Homo sapiens: one gene and its partners. The protein of the gene in region 4 purifies or fractionates together with the protein of the main gene of each other region. This does not show direct contact. Each region holds a gene or a part of one and is shown on either strand. Other genes may lie near its edges.

Region 1 (4,205 bases), on a different chromosome or scaffold from region 4:
GGTATTCTTAAACTTGTTTATGGATGAGATAACTGAAGATAAATAAAATTGATTGACCTGCACAAGGTCACAAGAAGATAAATGGATGATTGAAGACTAGAATCCACATTTCTTGTTTTCCAGGGCAATGCATTTTACACACCACCAAGTATTGAATGAGAAAAGTAATGGTGATTAAAAGTCATTAATGGATTGAAAACAGAGTTTCTAATCTTGAGTCTTAGGCTTCAGAACGTTAGGTAATATGTGATAATGTGTATTTTTTGAAGTGTCCTTGGTTTCTTCATATTTTCAACAGGGTCCATGACACATCAAAAGGTGAACTCTGAGTATATTTGTTTGTGGGCTTGATGGTAGTCACTGATAGGTTTCAATGTGCTATATATTCATTTTATTTCACTTTTCTTTTTAGAAAGTCAAGTTTTATGAGATCCTGGTAACTCTTATTACTAATACTAAAAGGAAACTCTTACATGAAATAAAATATGTATGTTAAAATGAAAATGATTTAATAAACTTCTGGTGTCCTTCCTAATTTTTTGGTTTTCATCTTTGAAGGGTGTTTGTTGAATATTTTACTTTTTCTATCTAGTTTTGTGTTTATTTGACACATGAAGAAATAGAAAGGCTAGTCAACTTTTCTAACTCCTGAAAATGTCGATCTTAGACTGTCTTTGGGTTCAACTCTCTTGAGACTGGACCTTTATTTTACTTAATAATATAACCATAGAGTGATAGGTTCTCATTTTCAAGGTGATATTAGTCCTCGAGAGCACCCATTCCTTAACACACTTGTGGACCTCTGGATGGTGCTGAGGCAGTGTGTCAAAGGGCAGCGTACACCCCATGGTGGCCTGGCAGCAGTGGTTGCTACAAGCCTCTCACTTGGCTAATGTGTGCTGTGTCTGTGGCTGCCTTAGCCTTGGGAAACCCAGGCAGGAGGAAGGGAAAAAAGGCTGCTCAAGGGTCTCTTTATATTGCTGTGAGTCATTAATATGCAGGCCTAATGAGACTTGAGAACTGCCAAGAATCCCCGGAGGTCTCTGCCCCTTGCGGGCCTTCACGCTAAGTGAACAGAGCATCTATTTAGTGTCTGGGAACCTGACAACAAACCAGATCTTGCCAGAAGTTTATATGTGCGTACAAAGTCCCTTTCATTTTTGCCCTATATATGGCATATGATTTATTGTTATCTTTAAAAACTGTACATTTAGCATTGCTCATTCCTGTTCTTTTTCAGAGTTTCTAATTTAACTGTCAACCTTTTAAAACTTTTAAAACAAAATGTTTAATGTTTTAAAGAGTATCTGTTGCATGTTTCTTTGGATGCATTTTACTCCTTTCCCACCCCACACGCCCCGCTTTGTTTTTCCTGTAGCACTTCAATCTCAATGAACATTTCAATTAGTTTAGTCCCTCAGACATAATGACCCATAATAACCTAACTGAAGAAAGAGAAATGAATAAACATCTGCAAAAGAGCCAAATTTGGAAGATAGATGAGAACATATTCTTATCAGTGCATCTTCCCAGTAGCTACTTTATTTCACAGTCACTCAGTGTTACCATTTCTGTAATGTTTCTTTCAAATTATTGGAGATGTCAAAGCATTTAAAAGAATACTAAAATGTTAAAATGTGTTGTGGAAAACATTTCAGCCAGGCAGTTTTTGTTTTTATCAAAATGTTAAAATTTTTTTGTATCTTTAAGTTCTTAAACATGTAAAAGTGTTACAGAATTAACAATCCTTTTATGTATCTTATTAGTAGTTACACGGCAGCCACAACATACTGGGCACAATAATAGCTATTTTAGGATTGTAATAAAGCACTTATGTTAAGAAGTGATTGCACCTTTGTGTGCTGAATTGCAATCAGATTTAATGTCTAATTTTATTGTAAGAATAATTTTGAAGTGTTTTCTTTTTTAAGTATAAAACCTCAAATGCAGAGAATTAAAATGCATTTGCTTAAAGACTTTTTTCAATCCATACTGCTGTTATGTACTATAAACCTCACATCAGGCAGCTAGACTATTTCCAAAAATTTAAGCCCATTTCAGATAAATCTGTTTTATTTCATTGTAAAGCCAGATATTAATGATTTTCCAATTTTGCAAAATTAGGTAATATTACTCATAGCATAGCTTTCTAAGTTCAGGATAGGAAAAAAACCTTGTGTTATAATAAGCAAATCTCACTTAACTAGGTTTTAGTAGGGAAAAGTTAGATTATCAAGCAAAACTAACATTGGAAAGATAGAGACTCCGAATTCTCTCTTTCAGTTTGTACCATATTCCACACTATAGTGTACAGACTATTTAGCTTAGTGCTTCACCTGTTTAAACTTCCTTTTTCTTTATTCCTATTTCTTTTTCTACATTAACATTATTCTGTATTATTTATTTAGATATGCCTTCTATTTATTCTTTTATGAATAGTTTTCTTTTTTTGTTCTATCTTCCACCCCCTCCTTCTTGCTTTTCTTTTTTCTAAGCCATTTGCCGTCACCAATGTTGTTCATAGAAGGGCTTTAAACACGAAGGCAGCTGCACAGAGAATCACATAAGCTTTTTCAGTTTTCCACTGCACCTGGCTCCATGTGTGAAATTCTTCGCCTTGACCACTGCTCTGTGGCACTTTCTTTCTATAGCCTTGTCAAGGTGCTTCCCGTTTTTTTCAGTGAACTATTGATGTATTGGTTAGATATGGCAGTAGTCCAAGGAGAAGTGGCAAATGCAGACATAAACCATCACAAGAGGAAAAACTGATTAATCACAGCTTAAACAGCCAAAGAATTGGACTTTAAAGAAATATATTTTCAACTTTATTATATCATTAAAGCATAATTATTTCTTCTATTTTAGGATACAGATAGAATATTTTAAATTGTATATTCTTAAACATTTTAATATTATTTGAGGTATATCTAAAGTGATCTGTTTAGTAGTGAGAGGTTGCTTTTCCCGTTATAAAATACCTACATTGTCAATAATGCTAAGCTTAATTATAGATTTATTTTTAATACCTTGTGCCTTTAAAAAAATATGTTGAAGAGATAATCCTAATAAGTGATTGAATTACTTGTTAGACATTCTCTGAAAATTGTCAAATTTCTCTTCAATAATTTTTTCTTTCAGTTATAGGAGAACTTATCTTCCAAATATGTTTAGTTTCTAACTAATTATAGATATAATGCATGGTCAAAATTTGGCTATGAATTTTAAAAATAAAGTGATTTGATTGGTCAATAATTTCAAATTAGTAGATAAAATATACCATTGAAATGCATTAAGCCAGTGCATTACTACAGTGTCAGCAATAGAATTCTTGGTTTATTATAAACACAAATACCTATTTCCAAACTCCATTAAGAATTTAGATAATTGCCAAGTTTGATTTTGGGTTTATATATAAAATGGATTTACACCAGTATTTATAAAACCTTATTCACTGGTGAAACTTTGAGCTGCAACTTGAAAATGTGCAGAGATTTATAACTGGAGGCAATATAGAAGATGAAATATTGAGAGGAAATGGTGAAAAATATATACATTTTGAAAGATTATTGGTAGGGAGAAAATTTTGATGGGCATATTTTGATTTTTTTCATGAGTGAGTTATGTTAATAACTATCTGCTTCAAAACCATGTTTTTCTAAAACATACTGCAATTTTTGTGGTTACAATTAATGTATTTTAAGTCGTTAAAAGAGGACTAGAAATCTCAAAAAATGAAAAGTTTTATATCTTCTTTAAAATTAATTTATCATATTTGGAAAAAAATAAACGCTTTGAATGAAAGCTTGTTGCACAAAAAGAAATGTTCACGCAATATTGTATTATGACAGTCACCGAAAAAGTAGCACAAATTGAATTCTAAAATTTTTGAAATCACAATTTGGTCTCAATGGAAATATCCACTGCCTGTGAGTGTACAGGACAAGTTACTTGCCAGTTGAAAACCATGTACTTTAAAATTTGTCTAAATATATCTTTGCATAACAGGCAGTCTATCACATCAGCTATCATCCCTTGCAGAACAGATTATTTCTGAAAAGTGGAAAAAATAAATAACTAGAAAAAGAGATTGCAAGTAAAAGGTATATGTTGAAACATTTATTAGATATTACCAAAATTTCAAAACTGAGGTTTGGAATAATAGACATTGGAGACTCTGAAAGGTGGGAAGACTGAAGCCAGGTGAG
Region 2 (4,995 bases), about 28 Mb from region 4:
AGAGCCAGTGAGATTCATTACACAGTTTTGTTTTCTTGCCATTGCCTCCTTCAAGGTTTTGCTCAAATCTCGACTTTTCACGAGGACCACCCTGACTCCTACGATGCTGCAGCCTGGCCACCCTCAAACCCCCTTTTATGTTGCTTAACTTTTTTATTTTGTCTGTTGCACTCAACTCCTTCTAATATACCACAAAATTGTAGTTCAGTGTCAAATAATTTAAGCTCCATGAGGGCAGGGATCTCACCTATTTTGTCCAATGATGTATCCCAATGAAATGAAAGAGTAGCAGTTAGCATCGGTGCCTGGTATTTATCTTTCTGATGAACGAATCTATATTCAGATGCCATTGTTGAGCACATGGAAAGCTACATGCTATGGAGGGTTGAGCATAATCAGAGTTTCTTGAAAGAACAATTTCTGTTTTCACTGGACATTTGCATGGTGACACTTAACCTCAAACACTTGTGGATTGTGCATATGAGTGTTTTTGCCCACAACTCTCCTTGTGTCTAATGCAATGAGCAGAGCGAGGTCACTCTTGCAGATAAATTTGTTTTCCAAAGGGGAACTTTGCCCGCTAATTTAAGGCAGCCACATAATCTGACTTACAGGCTCAGTCGTTTCTCATTTGCCATCTGGCAATTTAATTACTTTAAAATAAAGCTATATATAAAATGAAATAACACAAATTGGAAATCTGTGATAATATGTATGATAAGATGGTAACGTTTCTATGTGTTCTTTTGTTTTGTTGTTGTTGAAAAAATAAAGGGCATAAAAAGACCTGAGAAGGAATCATTTCAAAGCTTTCCCCTATGTGTTCTTTTGTTTTGTTGTTGTTGAAAAAATAAAGGGCATAAAAAGACCTGAGAAGGAATCATTTCAAAGCTTTCCCTAGACAGAGCCCCTTATATAAATTTTATTCTTTGACTAAGAGCCTTTGTTATAAACTAAATGTTTTGAATTAGTGGATTATTACATTTTTCCATTGAGTTATAAGTCTGGCCCAAAGCTATGAAATAAGAGGTTGTCTAAATTGTTTCAAAAGTGTTTGGCCATGAAGTGGAACTGGGCTGAGATGTGAGGAAGATTCTTTTCCTTTTTCCGTTGTCATAGTATTTCCGGATCTATATTCTCCTCTTTTTTCCTATCCCTTTACCCCTGGAATATGTTTTTTCAGTGCCTTCTTATACTCTGTTTCTGATTTCTCTGTCTCTACTTGTGCTTCCCTAGTTCTCTGTGGTTAATTGCCAATGGGCAAAAGAACCAGCACTCTGGATGGTAGATTCAAGTTAAAGAGTAACTCAGATAATGTTTGTTTGAGACAACATTGAGGGAAGGGCGATTATGGAATTCTGAAAACCAGGAGCCTAAGTGACAATTACATATAAAATAAAGATTAAAATGATTAGGGTACTTTATCTAATTTATCATTTGGAGTGGGGAAGTTGTATTTTTTTTGGTGGATTTTTTTTTTTCTTGATTGTTGTGGCAGCTAGATGCAAATAAGATCATGCTTTGGAACACACAATGCTGATTCTCAATCACTGGCAAAGAAGGGTGAGAAGACAGAGCATCCTAATTTGCACAAAAATGCAACCAAGTCATCATTTGCAGCTCCTTGGAGATTCTATTCTAAAGTTTTACTGCTTGTACAAGTTCCTTTGGTATCGGAGGCAGAGCCTGGGGCGTGGTTGGGAAACAATAGTTTGGTTTTTTTCCCCCCTAAATCAGTTCAAATCCCATATACCCTGAATTAACTGGAATTGCTGTCAGACTTGGCAGCTCCTGTAAAAGATCTGGGTGTTCATAGGGGCCTAATGAAATGGGGAACACATTTGTTTCATCTTGACTTCCGTAGAGGAAAGTCTGCACTATTTTTGTGGGCTCAGAGAGGAGGAACTTCTGATCTGTTGGAGAGAAAACTGAATGAATGGGCACTGAGGCAGAAAGCCTGATGTGGCTGTCATGCAAATAAGAACCGTGATTGGCTTTCTCTTTCTTTCAGCGCACGATGTCACTGGCTGCTCTCAGCCTTAAAGATTAGGTTTCAGTAGGAGTTTTTCAGGTTCAAGGACTGTTAATGGTTTGTAACTGCCTGACAATAAACTCAACCTCAGTTACATCAGCCTGGGCAGATGTCTAAGGATATGAGACCGGGGGAAGAAAAAGTTAGAATCTGTAGCAGAAGGACGAAGCTTGCCACCTGCCTACTGGGCTGAGCTTTTAATGTGATTTACATTTCTAAGCTCTATGTAGGTGCCCTGGAAATGGTGGTCTTCATTAATGCAAAGATTAAGTCTTTAATTAAACTTTTTAAGAAGAAAAGTAAGTAGTTCCTTTTCTCTCTACTACCTATTGTGTGCATATGTTTCCATATGTGTATATGTCCCTGTGTGTCTGTGTGTGTGTGTGTGTGTGTGTGTCCATGTGTGTGTTTTAGGTCCTTCGTTCTTTTGTGTGAAGAAATTAGAGTGTGAAACAGCGTAATAGGCATGAGTTAAACTCTACTCTATACCAGGTTGTTTAAATACCTCAGACTTTTGTAACTCTAGGACAGTATTATGTGATCTTAGCATGTCTTATTTATTTATGATTGGGGTTTTAAGTGAATTCACTTCTTCTGTGCTTTTCAAAAGAAGTCCTTTGAAGAGGGGGGAAATTCTTGTACTTAATTTATGTTTCCCTTGATATCAAGTGTATGATTTTTTGATTCTTTGGATAAATATGCAGCTGAGGTAAGGGAGCCTCTGTGTAATGTATCACATATTTCTGGTGGAGATAATCCCCTGAAACTCCCTGGCACTCTTTGTTGTGTATTTAAGAGCTCGAGCACAAACTGTCTAGACTGATCAGTGATTGTTGTAAGGTACAGAACTTTTGTGATGTGGCTTTATTGTGTACTTACCATTGACTTACATTTCTTTAATGTAGGTGCTTCTTCATTCTCTTGAAAATAATAATTTTTATAACTACTTGGCTTTGTTTTTACATAGTCGGTGGTTTATTTTATTTTAGTTTAGTTTAGTGTTTGGACCAGTGACTTATACTGGATAAATGAACATGGGTAGGGGCATTGGTAAGAGGAGCTTTGGAGAAAGCTACAAAGAGCAGCACGGTGGGCTGATTTTCTGCAGCTCCTTGCTAAAGGCTGCCTTTGGATGAACAGATTAAAAGTGGCCCTGGCGAGAGTGAGGAACACGAGGGGAAGAGACTTTTTCATAGGAGCCAGTTGGTAGCTGTGCAGTGGGGCCGATGGTGCGATTGATGGTGCAGACACGAATGCCATTACTTGGATTTGATTTGAAATTGTCGAATAGGAAAAGTTTCCATTTTCAATAGTTTCTAACTCTGAAGTATGGTAACTCAGTCTTTAAAATAAATGGACATCAGCACAAAACACTGTGATGAACTCTGGCTACACTTTGGGGGGACATATGGTGAGTTTGGCCCAATGCTAGATTCTTCTGAAACACAAATGAGGGTTAAGTCAGGTCTTTGTGGATTTTGTGTATTAAGATTGATAGTTGTATGCACCATGCAAAACATTTGCTCAACAAGAGTTTACATGAAATACTAGGTGCCAAATTCACATACTGCTTTTGTCAAATACTAAGCAGAAAGCACAATGGACATTTCTGTTTTTAACTTGATATCTAGTTCTCAATGTTTATTTTCTCATTTAGCAACTTACGGAGAAGGTGGGGTCCTTTTGAAAATGAGTTATCCTGTTCAGATTCATAAGATTGTAAAATTTAGTAGCTGCAGAAAAGATGGTATGTGAGATGAGCGCTAGCATGTGGCCCAGGTTTACAAGAGACAGTGACAGTTCAAAGTTTGGGGCCTCGTTAGAATAATTTTTACTGTTCCTGCCACAACCATGTTTTACCTGAGTTATTTCTTGAGCTAAGTACTTTATGTATATTGGTTCATTTGATCTTTAGAGTAGCCCTAATAACTGTGCTATAGAGTATGTTTAGTGAATTTTAGATGTGCTCAAATGGATTTAATAGTTTATGCGTGTGTTCTCATGTTACTTTGAGAATTCATTTTATGGTCTAGTTTCCAGGTACATGTTATGTTGGGGACATGGATACGCCCAGTGTGAACTCTATAGCATAGATCAGAGTCAGGAAGACTTGCTCCTCACTCACAATTCAAGTATCTGCTGGCTTTACAGGGGTTAGACTTGCTACCTCAAGCAAATGCCTCAGCACAAGGACTTTCTCCAGTACCTTTCCAGTCTCTCTTATGCCTGGGTTACATGGCAGGTATATAGAAAGTATTAAAACATTGTTGATGAATTTGTTTTGGTGCTGTCGGCCTCATTTTGGGCTCCACTGATGCCCCAACTTAGCTCGTGTTGTCAGGAAAAATGAACTAGAGAGGTCTCAAGCCTCCGAGGATTTAAAGAAAAATTATTGTAGAGATTTATCTTACTCTCAGGATTTTACCTGTTATTTTGTCCTCTAATGTCTTGGTCTCTTCTGTGCTGGGAAAATTTAGTTGAACTGGATTGTGTTGGGAAGAGTCAATTGCATTGTAATTTTAAAAATGTTTAATATAAAAGGGTTTCATGAAAGCAAGAAATGCAGAGAGAATTTTGTAACACAAATGGGTCTCCACATGTATTAGCTATGTCATTTACATGTAAATTGAATGTTTACGCTTAATTTTTTAAAAATGTAATTGAGTTTATAACAGTGATGCTCTTTAAATAATGCTGTAGAGGGAGAATATTTGTTATAAACCTCCTGGTAGGAAATTCATTTCTATCAGGACAGTCTAACATTTACTGTTGCGATGGCATTATACAGTTGAGTAACTGCTATTTGTTGTGTGTGTGCGAGGGGGGTTAAGTAGGAATTGGAGGTCTCTATCAATTCTGTCAGATGTTTTCAAACATTGGAGTAAAGGGAGGACCTAAAATGCTGGGAAGCAGTTAACTGAGCAAATGATTCTATGAAAACATTGTTTGGAGGGTGGACACTT
Region 3 (4,205 bases), on a different chromosome or scaffold from region 4:
CTAAAGTTCTTTTTAATGTGTTACAATCTGATAAGTATAAAGTGATATCTTATTGTTACATTGTTTCCCTCGCTACTGGAGAGTATCTTTTGTATACTTGTTAGCTGTTTGGGTTTGCACTTCTATGACTTCCCTATTGAAATTATTTGCTTTATTGGTTGTCTTTTTCTTGTCAATTTATGAGATACCTTTTGTCTGCATTGCAGATAATTGGTGATATTTCAGTTATGTTTTGCCATGCACCAATTTTTAACTTACATGTATATATAGAGTTTAATATTGCTAGATATGTTGCTAGCTTTTTAAAAATATGGTTATAAGGTCTCCCCTGCCACTGGATTCTGCATGTTTTTCCTAGATCATTTGTAATTATTTTATTTTTATAGTCTATGTCATATGAATTTATTTTATATATCTTAAAGTTCTCACTCTGTTGCCCAGGCAGGAATACAATGGTGTGATCTTGGCTCACTGCGGCCTCTGCCTCCTGGGTTCAAGCCATCCACCTGCCTCATCCTCCTAAGTAGCTGGGACTACAGGCGCATGACACCACACCTAGCTAATTTTTGTATTTTTTGTAGAGACGGGATTTCGCCGTGTCACCCAGGGTGGCCTCACAATCCGCCTGCCTTGGCCTCCCAAAGTGCTAGGATTACACACGTGAGCCACCATGCCCAGACTAAGTTTGTTTTCTTTTAAATGAATAGCTGCTTACACCAGCATCATTTATCCAACTGAAATACCACTATTATCCTACAGTCATAGTCATACATTGTTTAGTGATGTGGATACAATCTGAGAAATGTGTCGTTAGGCGATTTAGTCATTGTGCAAATATCATAGAGTGTACTTACACAAACCTAGATATTACAGCCTACTACACACCTAGGCTATATGGTATAGCCTATTGATCCAAGGCTTCTAACTTATACAGCATGTTACTGTACTGAATACTGTAGGCAGTTGTAACACATTAGTAATGATTTGTGTCTGAACATAGAAAAGATAGAGTAAAAATATGGTATTATAACCTTACAGGATTACTGTCATATGTGGTCCCTCATTGACCTAAATGTCATTAATTCTGTGCTTGACTGTACATTAAAGTCTCAAGGCAAGTCTTTTCCCCAAAATGGTATACCTTTTCTATTTTTCCTGGTTGTTCTTAGGCATTTATTCTTTCATACGAATTTTAAAATGAGTTTATCCATTGGCAACTCATTTGAAAAAAATGTAGCCCCTTTTTTTTTCAGGTTCTTTAGACCTCTCACTTGTAAAGATTTCATAGACATGGATCTTTATTTTTAAAGTACATTTTTCCACCATTTTTATCTCCTTTTCATTAACTTCTGGAAACACATTTTTGTAATGTAGGAGAGAAGAAAGAATTTCTCATGTGTTTACAGATTTTTTAAAAATCTGCTAATATGTATTTGTGAGATAAGTAAATTTCTCTTGCTCATGCTGTCTGCAAATCAGTGACCCAACACTTTCCTTTCACATCCATTTTCCCAGCTTGATTCTAGAATCTAAAACTATTGCTCTTCCAAACTGCTAACTTAATAGCCCGGTTTAATAAAAATTAATGTTTAGAGCTCACGCCTGTAATCCCAGCACTTTGGGAGGCCGGGGCGGGCAGATCAGCTGAGACCTTGCAGTGAGATAGACTTGGGTGTGAATCTTCCTATCTTTTTTGTTACATGATCCTTAAATAGCAACCCTGGTCTTTATCTGTACTGTGGAAGTGCAGTTATTCTTTGTTGGATTCTTCTGGTGGTTAAATAAGAAAATAATGTAAATTTTCTGGTGAATATAGATATCAATATGTAAGAAGAACTCACTTTCTTCACTTAGCCCCTTTTTCAATCCTGCTTTCTCTTCCCCAACTTTTTCTTCTAGTGGAAAGTGTTTTGAGTGGTGATATCAGAATTCATAAACCTGGGAAAGTTATGAAATGTGTGTGCTGGTAGTTAGCTTTGATAGTATATTTAATACTATATTTTTGATACTTGCGTGGATAACTGGACTTATCTGTGAACATGGGGTACCTACCCATCATATATAACATCGGAAATGAGCAGTAGTGCTGCTCTTAGAGCTGGACAGGGGGTATCCTGGTCTAGGCCCTGCGATACATGTGTCTTCTCCAGACTGCTGTCTCCCCTCAGGTAAGGAGTCACTGAAGCCAAGGGGATGTACCCACCCAGATTTTGCAACATCTCTTCCTACAACATTCTGACCCTGGTTTATCTGCCTACAAAGGCCTCTCCACCATGCCCATCTCTGTCCATTGTGCTACCAATATGTCTGAGGTAGCCAAGAGAACAGTGTACGCTAAGGGTTTGAACAGAGCCTGCATCCATACCCTTTCCTTCCTTCTTGCACCTTTACCTCCCCCTACACCCAAAATGGAATGAAACGGGGTGGGAAGAGGAGAAAAAAGAGCCCAGGGCTAACTCTTGTGTTGCTGCCATGCTTCAGTGTGGAACTCCATGGAGTCTGAGCATTTTAAATTTGAACCTGTCCTTCCAGGTCATAAGGTATATTTGTCGAGTAGGGTTACAGACCATATTTTATTCATCATGAACTTGATTTCTAATTTTAAATATTTAGATAAATGGCTTGTAGACCTCCATTGTATTCTTGCTCAAACATTGCCCCACAAATGTTTGAGATGGGCCTGATGAGCAAAGGATACTTCTATTAAAAATTAAGCGACTTAAATTTTTTCTTTCAAAACATTTTTTGTGTTTAAACACATCCACCATATAGAGTCATATTCAGGATTTGGGATGTCTTTGACCTAATTATAGCATTTGGCCATTCCTTTCCTAAAATTTCCTCTTTCTTGAACACATTTTGTCCTGGTTTTCTACCTGCTTCTTTGATGTTTCTAGGTCTTTTTATTGGACTTTTTAGGTTCTTTTGTCCCATTTTATGTTGATTTTCTTCAAGGAAGTGTCCTTTACTCTTGCCACTTTTTTATGCTCTCCTTAAGTACCATATACCCAAAGTTTTAATTGTTACCTGTAAGCTGCTATTTCTAAAGTCTTTATCTCAAAGCAGACCCTCTCTGATTTCAGTGGAATCAATATGCATGTCTATCTGCCTTCAAAAGAGCTCTACCCAGATGCTTTGTAAGCATCTTGCACTCTGTATGTCTAAAACTAAGCTCATCTTCACCTCTTACCCTGAAACCTGTTCCTCCTGTATTCCCTGTCTTGTTTAACGGCACTAACCATATACATGATAATCCTAGATTCCTCCCCCTTTATACTTCATGTTCAGTCAGTCCTATCAGCTCTGTCTCCTTTTCTCCATCCTTACCAGTAATGCTCATTTTAAGCTCTTGTGTTTTATTGTGTACAGCAGTTGCAGCAGCCTCTTGCCTTTATTCTTGGATTCCCAATCCATCCTCTACAAAACTTGCCCTCTTGATATTTTATAAAATGTGACCTGACCTTGTTATTGGGTTACTTTAAACAGTTGAGAGAACTCTGTTCAAGCTACTGATGCAATCTAAGCATCTTACTGATGTTTCTCATACTTTATTCCTCTAGTCCCTGTAACTTTGCATTGGCTGGCTCTTTCTGTATTTCTTTTCTTGCCCATCAAGAAAAACTCATCCATAAGGTTATTGGCTCAATTTAGTTTTCTCAGGTATATGGGCATTCTTTGTTCCCAGAGCACTATGTACTATGTTACAGTTGTTGACATGTCTGTCATCCTGCTAGATTCTGAGCTTCTTTAAATAAGCATCTTTGTCTTTTCATTGTATTCTCTGTCATCTAACATAGGACCTGACGTATAAATGTTTGGATGAATCCTCTAATCATATTAGGTATGTAAATCGTGTGCCTGGAACTATGTTATATGTCATGTTTTGTTTTGAATTGTTTTGTTTAATATCCTACATTGACCTAACCCAGTGTTTTTCCATGAGGGCACTATATAGGTTTTTGGGGTGGTATAATTCATTATCATGTGGGACTGTACATTTCAGGATGTTTGCTTGTCTCATCTTCAAAATGAACCTGTACGTTTCTGGGGAGTGGGTTGTTTTCACAGAAGAATATTGCAGGTGAAAACTATTTGCTAAAAATGCTGAGCATGTAGTAAGTGCTTAATAAATGCTTGTTGCTGTAAGCTTTTGCTTTTAACTAGGCATGGTACCATCATTACAATTTTGTTTAATAGTTTAACCA
Region 4 (4,205 bases):
TAATTCTGTTTTGTATTAGGTAATTACCACAAACCTATAATTCACTTTATATCAATTTCCTCTTTCTCATTTTATTGCTTTCTTAATGATGCAAGGTTTTTTACTCCTTAGCTGAGCTAGGTCCAGGTTCTTGTCTCACGATGAGGAAGAATTAGGCACACAGATACTCTAAGAGTGAATGGAGTAGAATTTATTAAGTGAAAGGAAAGCTCTCAGCCAAGAGAGGGGTCCTGAAAGCAGGTTCCAGGTTGCCCCGTCACAGTTGAATACAAGGGCATATATATATATATATATATATATATATATATATAGAGAGAGAGAGAGAGAGAGAGAGAGAGAGAGAGAGAGAGGAGAGAGAGGAGAGAGAGGAGAGAGAGAGAGAGAGAGAGAGAGACGCTGATGGGGCTGGGTTCCCTATTTGTATGAGGCACAGATTACTGGTGGCTTCACCACATTTCCCTAGTGCACATGCAGGCCCTTAGTCTGCTGTGGGCATGTTTAAGCAAGCCCCCTGTGCAAGTTCCCTTATCTGCACAAAGCATCTGGTGTAAGCCCTTGTGGGGTGGGTCAGAGGTTCTCTGGGGACCCTTCCCTTACTGTCTGCCTAAAGCAAGCTAGCTAACTCCTTTCATTAACAACCACTGGGATTCTGAATACCTAAGGGATCTCTTCCCCTGGCTTTTCTCTTATGGAATATAGTCAGTTCTTATTGCCAAGATTAGTCTTTTCCATCTCTGTATCTACACCTAGCATTTGTATCCCTACCAATTGTTGAATAAATGAGTAACTTTATACCTGCTTTTTCTTCCATTTGGGATGCTTCCCTTATCTGCCAGAGAAACTGTCTCTGGAAGTATCTTGATCACCAAATAACTTTTGACACCTGAAAGTGAGGTGCTTCTATCTCTGCTGTGTTGCTCTTACCTTATATTAAGAGCTGCCTGTTATTGGGCTCCTCTGTATGAGGTGCACTTCAAGGCTCTTTTCTTGCTTCTTTTAGAGACAGATGTTTTTATTCCTATTTTACAGATAAGGAAATTGATACCAAGGTCTCACAGTGAATAGAACAAATATTAGGACTTATCTATTAAATTGCTTTAAATATTTGCTTAAATGTCTGGTTCTCCCTCTGCTCAAAATTCAGTAATGGCAGGGATCTTCTTCAAGTTATTTTGGCTTACTCTTTTCAGTAATAAGAACTTACACAACTAGAGGAATACAGTGATTTTAGATTTATGATTTTTTTTTTTCAGAAGTTGTAACAAGAGGGTGTAAAAGATCTCCTAAATTTCTGAATCTATATCTTGGGCATCCCTGGGACAGATAATCTTCTAGGTCTTTGATGAATCTTGGGTTCTGCTACTTGGCCTAAAATTTATTTCTAGCTAATATAAATGCTGATTATATATAAATGCTGATTATATATAAATGCTACAGTCTACATATAAATGCTTTCAGATTGACAGGCATATTATTTGCATATACCTTTACATCATAATCTTCTCTAACCCTCATCAGGTGGACAGATATAGATAAAGCAAGTAATTTCCATTTTAGACACAAATCATTTAACAGAAAGTAGTAGAACAAGGTTTAAAAGCAGGCTTCCCAGGGTATCTCTTTTTTTTTCCCCACTTTGTCATGGCTGGGTGACTTTAGATAGGGTTTAAAGTTTAAAATACAGTTGGCCCTTGAACAGTGTAGGGGTAAGGGGCACAGATCCTCAGTGAAGCCAGAAATTTGCATATAACTTTTGACTCCCCCAAAACTTAACTGCCTATAGCCTACTATTGACCAGAAGCCTTACCGAGAACATAAACTGTTGCTTAACATGTATATTTTATGTTGTATGTGTAGTAGTATACTGTATTCCTACAATAAGGTAAGCTAGAGAAAAGAATATGTTATTAAGAAAACCATAAGAAAAAATATACTTACTGTTCATTAATTGGAAGTGGATCATCATAAAAGTCTTCATCCTCGTTATCTTCACATTGAGCAGACCAAAGAGGAGAAGGAAAAGGAGGAGTTTGTCTTGCTGTCTCAGGAGTAGCAGAGGCAGAGAGGTGGAGGAGGTAGAAGTAGTAGAGGTGGGCACACTGGTGTAACTTTACAAAAACACATCTTGATTTCTGACTTTTTTGCTTCTTCATTTCTCTAAAAATGTTTTTATATGGTACCAATCCTCCTTTTATTTGCTTTAGTTTTGGTACTGTATCATAGAAGGGTTCACGTTGTAAAATAAATCAAAAGTAGTCTTGAATAATTGGAACGCTTTTGCCAGATTCTCTAATGTCAATTTGTTTTCTGACACCACTTCTTCTATGTCTTCTTTTTTTTTTTTTTGGATTCCATTTTTTAAAATCGGAGATCTGCTTCTTTACTTTCTTTCTTATTTATTATGATACTTTAAGTTCTATGGTACATGTGCATAGTGTGCAGGTTTGTTACATAGGTATACATGTGCCATGGTGGTTTGCTGCACCCATCAACTCGTCATTTACATTAGGTATTTTTTCCTAATGCTATCCCTCCCCCAGCCCCCGACCCTCCGACAGACCCGGGTATGTGATGTTCCCCACCATGTGTCCATGTGTTCATGTTGTTCAATTCCCACCTAGGAGTGAGAACATCTGGTGTTTGGTTTTCCAACCTTGTGATAGTTTTTTTAGAATGATGGTTTCCAGCTTTATACATGTCCCTGCAAAGGACATGAACTCATCCTTTTTTATGGCTACATAGTATTCCATGGTGTATATGTACCACATTTTCTTAATCCAGTCTATCATTGATGGACATTTGGGTTGGTTCCAAGTCTTTACTATTGTAAATAGTGCCACAATAAACATACATGTGCATTTGTCTTTATAGTAGCATGATTTATAATCCTTTGGGTATGTACCCAGTAATGGGATCGCTGGATCAAATGGTATTTCTAGTTCTAGATCCTTGAGGAATTGCCACACTGTCTTCCACAATGGTTGAACTGACTTACACTCTCACCAATAGTGTAAAAGTGTTCCTATTTCTCCACATCCTCTCCAGCATCTGTTGTTTCCTGACTTTTTAATGATCACCATTCTAACTGGCATGAGATGGTATCTCCTTGTGGTTTTGATTTGCATTTCTCTGATGACCAGGGATGATGAGCATTTTTTCATATGTCTGTTGGCTGTGTAAATGTCTTCTTTTGGGAAGTGCCTGTTCATATCCTTTGTCCACTTTTTGATCGGGTTGTTTTTTTTCTTATAAATTTGTTTAAGTTCTTTGTAGATTCTGGATATTAAGCCTTTGTCAGATGGGTAGATTGCAAGGATTTTCTCCCATTCTGTAGGTTGCCTGTTCACTCTGATGGTAGTTGCTTTTGCTGTGCAGAGGCTCTTTAGTTTATTTAGATCCCATGTGTCTATTTTGGCTTTCTTGCCATTGCTTTTGGTGTTTTAGTCATGAAGTGTTTGCCCATGCCTATGTCCTGAATGGTATTGCCTAGGTTTTCTTCTAGGGTTTTTATGGTGTTAGGTCTTACATTTAAATCTTTAATCCATCTTGAGTTAATTTTTGTATACGGTGTAAAGAAGGGATCTAGTTTCAGCTTTCTTCATATGGCTAGCCAGTTTTCCCAGCACCATTTATTAAATAGGGAATCCTTTCCCCATTTCTTGTTTTTGTCAGGTTTGTCAAAGATCAGATGGTTGTAGATGTGTGGTGTTATTTCTGAGGGCTCTGTTCTGTTCCATTGGTCTATATCTCTGTTTTGGTACCAGTACCATGCTGTTTTGGTTACTGTAGCCTTGTAGTGTAGTTTGAAGTCATGTAGCGTGATGCCTCCAGCTTTGTTCTTTTGGCTTAGGATTGTCTTGGCTATGCAGGCTCTTTTTTTGTTCCATATGAACTTTAAAGTAGTTTTTTCCAATTCTGTGAAGAAAGTCATTGGTAGCTTGATGGGGATAGCATTGAATCTATAAATTACCTTGGGTAGTATGGCCATTTTCACGGTATTGATTCTTCCTATCCATGAACATGGAATGTTCTTCCATTTGTTTGTGTCCTCTTTTATTTCGTTGAGCAGTGGTTTGTAGTTCTCCTTGAAGAGGTCCTTCACATCCCTTGTAAGTTGGATTCCTAGGTATTTTATTCTCTTTGTAGTAATTGTGAATGGGAGTTCACTCATGATTTGGCTGTTTGTCTGTTATTGGTGTATAAGA
Region 5 (4,205 bases), on a different chromosome or scaffold from region 4:
AAAAATGATATGTAGCCATGCACTTAAACCTGAGTCTGTTTCTTGTAACAATCATTGGAATTTTTATTGCTATTTTAATGCTTCTTAAGTCTTATGTTAAATTTGAGAAAAAAAGGAATTCAATAGAACGGCTCTAATACTGACTTTGGGGGACTTTTGTAGTGATGTGCTGAGTGGATCGTGTCAGACTTTGGTTGCGTAGTTGTTAGGGGATATGAATTAACTTGTAATAAATTTGAGCTGTGCTTACAGGGATTTCTAGTGTTCCAAATGAGTAAATAAGTTAGTGAATATATACTACAGTCACAGTTTTGCATTGTATTCTGGGTAATACCAAGGAAAGAGATGATACTGTCTTCACTTCTTCAGGATGCGTGGTAACATCTTAGGCATTGCTTATTGTGTTCATTTCTTTATTACATAGCAAGAATGGATGGATCAGATAGCCAAATATGAATTAATAATTTCACAAAGCACAGATTTTGAAATTACTAGCTTTTTTTTAACAGATAGGGACATTAGAGATTGGAAAAGACCTATGTTTAGTAAATAAGTTTTACTTATTAAGAAATAGGTTTTTAGTTTTTGAGGACCTAGTTAAAGTTCGACAGAAAAAATCTGTGTATGGGTTGTGAATGTGTGTATAAATATGAAAAAAATATATGGCTGAGCACCTCACATTCATATGATTTACTGAAAAATTTGCTACCCAAGGAAAATGCTGGACAAGTCTGGTAGTTAGAAGATGGATTCAAATATCTGATTTAATTTATAAGTGCATATAAATCTTTTTTATGCCTTAATTTCTTGGTCGATATAATCTTTGGCCCTTAGTTTAAGAATGTGTAATTTAAAAGCCATTGTTATTTTCATCATATTATTTATATTATTATTATTTTTGAGATGGAGTCTCTTCTGTTGCCTAGCCTGGAGTGCAGTGGTGCGATCTCGGGTCACTGCAACCTCAGCCTCCCTGGTTCAAGCCATTCTCCCACCTCAGCCCCCCGAGTAGCTGGGATTTCAGGTGCACACCACCATGCCCGACTAATTTTTGTATTTTTAGTAGAAACAGGTTTTCACCACGTTGGCCAGGCTGGTCTTGAACTCCTGACATTGTGATCCGCCCGCCTCGGCCTCTCAAAGTGCTGGGTTTACAGGCGTGAGCCACCGTGCCCGGTCTTCATCATATTATTAACTAAATGCATTTGACAAAGCTTATATCTTTTTGGAAGAAACTGAAAAATGTGGGTTGAGTGATAGATTAGGTGGATAATTTATGTATTATCCTCAGTGTTAACCTTTTAATACTTTATTATCTTGGCTTCATAACACTTTATATAGCACTTAAATTTACATTGTAAGTGACTAGATTGTCCTTGAGTGTAGAAAGGCTGGATTCATCTTTGTTTTCACTGACCAAGACAATGCTTGTAGGTGATCATGCATGTTTTGCCCAATTGCATTAATAGTTGATTGCATTACCCAGAGTATTGATTACTAATTAGCAAGTGTATCTTTAGGGTTCTGAAGGCCTTTGTAGATGGTGATAGGTTAGGTGATCTGGATAACAGCTCAAGAAAGTCTAAAGCTGAAACCAAAATTATAAAGTTAAGTTTTACTACTTGGGTTAAACATTTTTGTCAAGTAAAATGGTAAAAGGATGGGGAAGAAAAGACCTACAGGTAATTTCTGGTGAATTTACTTGATTGATAGCTTGGTAATGTGACTGCCTAAATAATTGGTGAAATCTTAGGCCACATTAATAGATTTATCTGTAACAAAGGAATTGGGTCTCATAGTCTACTGGTTAGACCATATCTGTAATATATATGTATATTTTTAGAGATGGGGTCTTGCTATATTCTCAGGCCAGTCTTGAACTCTGTGCTCCACAATCGTCCTTCCTTAAGCTCTCAAGAAGCTGGGACTGTCTATAATATTGACTTTAATTTTACTTCACATTTTTTGGAGGGTGCTTGTCTAGAGGAGGTTGACAAAGAAAATTCATTATTAATGTAAACTGAATTGCTTCTCCAAAAGTAAATGAAAGGCCGTGAAACTGCTGTAGGAATTCAGTTTTGTTTTAAAAATACAATAATTTTGTGTCTATTATTTGGGAAGCACTGTTATGTTTGGTGAGATTTATGAAGGCTTATGATATTGGCCCTGCCCTGACAAAAGGTAGAGTTGCTTTGAGATGATATAACTTTACTGTAAACTCCAAAATACTTCCCTACATTGATACCACTGCCCAGAATGCCCTCTGTTGACCAATTCCTATCAACCCCATGCCTCCAGACTACCCATTCTGGATATTGTCTTATGGGACTACCACCTTATATTACGGTTATTATAGTTATTTCTTGTGTATTCAAATCTTAGGGAAATTGTCATGGTATAAATACTTAAATATCTTACATTCCCTTTTGTTGGTAGAAATTGTTGTGTTCAACATTGTATTACAGACGTTATTGCTATTAGTTAAGGAGGATGAGTGAGAGGTATCAAGATATCTGTTTATGTCACCATTCCATAATGACTATAATAAGTTGGAAGCTAGAGAGCTGCCTCTAACCAGTATCTCCTTTGCATAGCCACTCATACTCCATTTACTTCCATTTGCTTGCTTTCTTTGCCTTTTTCTTAAAATATTTGCTCTCTCTCCTTCCCCCACCCTATAAACCTATAAAATATGATTTTGGCTGGAAACTTTAAAAAAACCTATTCTACCAACTTTTTCCTCTGTCAGCTAGTTTGTAGAGAGGAAATAGTAAGAGAAATAGTAATGGCTTATAAATGTCAAATACCTTCTGTGTATATCAACAAGTGCTGTCTTATTTAATAATCTTCAATCTTTAAACATTTTCACTTCAATAGCAAAAAAAAATCTGTCTTGGGGAATATATCTATAGAATATTAAAAACTGGTAGGAAAGGTTATGTAAAGGTTTTGTTCTATAGAATGTGAAAGCCGTTCCATATTTCAGTTCAGGCCATGTCTATCTAATACACCTGAAACACGTAAACAGGACTGATGCTTGTTCATTCAACAGATGTTTATTTCATGCCTATTATGGCTTCAGCACTAAGCTAGGCTTTGTGGGGCATACTAAAAGAATCAATTAGATATCAGCATGAGCCTCAAAGCAACCCTAAAACAACTAGAAAGTAATAGATGGACTTTAGGGCTATGAAAAGTGACTTTTCATTCTAGGTATCACAGGAAAATCTTTAGGAAGACTGTCATTTGACCTAGGTTTTGGAATAAGAAGGGTTATGCAGGTGGGGGTTCCTGACAGGTTCCTAGAGGGCAGATATTGTGTCTTACTCATTGCTTATTCATTGTCTGATTCATTGCTGTATCCTGCCTGGATTAGCCTGACATTAGTAGGGTCTTTAATAAATGTTTGTTGGACTGACCTGAGTCTAGTGTTGCGTTTGACTTGAATTTGAGTGCACAATGTCTGAAAGTAGTGATGAAGGGTAGACTGGAACCAGGCAGGCAAAGAGGTTGGTCTGGCTGATTGCTTGATTCATGAACCTCTTGTGTGTGTGTATGGGTGTGTCTGTGTGTGTGTGTGTGTGTGTAGTTACACATTTGTATATAATCAAACCACTTTTCAGACCATTTAAAAATTCACAGAAGAAAATCTTAGTTTATTGGTAGAAGGGATTACCTCTTGCTTCTGAATACTTTGGTGGCAGGAGGGGAATACCTCTGGGTTTTAGAAGATGAAAGTGTATTTATTTTAGCGCCGCTGCAAGAATATTTGAAGGATGTTATTTCCTTTAATAATATGTTACTAATTTGAAATTAGTTTTATTTTTAAATATATATTATTACTACAGCTCGTTTATATTGTTTTTTATTTTCCCTTTATCTGTGACTGTATACTGTAGGCCCTCCATATCATTTGATTTCCACGTCTGTGGATTCAACCAACCATGGACTGGAAATACTAATTAAAACAATCATACAACAATAAAAATAATACAGATCTAAAAACAATACAGCATAACAACTATTTACACATATCATTTACATTGTATTAGGTATAAGCAGTCTAGAGATGACTTAAAATATATGGGACGATGTGTGTAGGTTATGTGGGTTATGTGCATATACTGTGCTGTTTTATTTTTATTTATTTATTTATTTATTTATTTATTTATTTTTGAGACGGAGTCTCGCTCTGTCGCCCAGGC

Evidence for each region.
Region 1: the proteins of WASF1 (region 4) and PCDH10 purify together in Homo sapiens (pull-down; one large-scale study listed by IntAct). This does not show direct contact.
Region 2: the proteins of WASF1 (region 4) and NHSL1 purify together in Homo sapiens (affinity purification with mass spectrometry; one large-scale study listed by BioGRID and IntAct). This does not show direct contact.
Region 3: the proteins of WASF1 (region 4) and ZC3H15 fractionate together in Homo sapiens (co-fractionation; one large-scale study listed by BioGRID). This does not show direct contact.
Region 5: the proteins of WASF1 (region 4) and FNBP1L fractionate together in Homo sapiens (co-fractionation; one large-scale study listed by BioGRID). This does not show direct contact.

The regions. Positions count from the first base shown.
Region 1 is NC_000004.12:133,155,357-133,159,561, forward strand, and holds part of PCDH10 (protocadherin-10 isoform 1 precursor), read left to right. Parts: intron 1-4,205.
Region 2 is NC_000006.12:138,496,569-138,501,563, reverse strand, and holds the start of NHSL1 (NHS-like protein 1), read left to right. Parts: upstream 1-2,069; 5' UTR 2,070-2,273; coding exon 2,274-2,331; intron 2,332-2,819; exon of another isoform or gene 2,820-4,267; coding exon of another isoform or gene 4,268-4,274; intron 4,275-4,995.
Region 3 is NC_000002.12:186,495,822-186,500,026, forward strand, and holds part of ZC3H15 (zinc finger CCCH domain-containing protein 15), read left to right. Parts: intron 1-4,205. UniProt on the Homo sapiens protein: Protects DRG1 from proteolytic degradation. Stimulates DRG1 GTPase activity likely by increasing the affinity for the potassium ions.
Region 4 is NC_000006.12:110,120,381-110,124,585, reverse strand, and holds part of WASF1 (actin-binding protein WASF1), read left to right. Parts: intron 1-4,205.
Region 5 is NC_000001.11:93,450,771-93,454,975, forward strand, and holds part of FNBP1L (formin-binding protein 1-like), read left to right. Parts: intron 1-4,205. UniProt on the Homo sapiens protein: Required to coordinate membrane tubulation with reorganization of the actin cytoskeleton during endocytosis. May bind to lipids such as phosphatidylinositol 4,5-bisphosphate and phosphatidylserine and promote membrane invagination and the formation of tubules.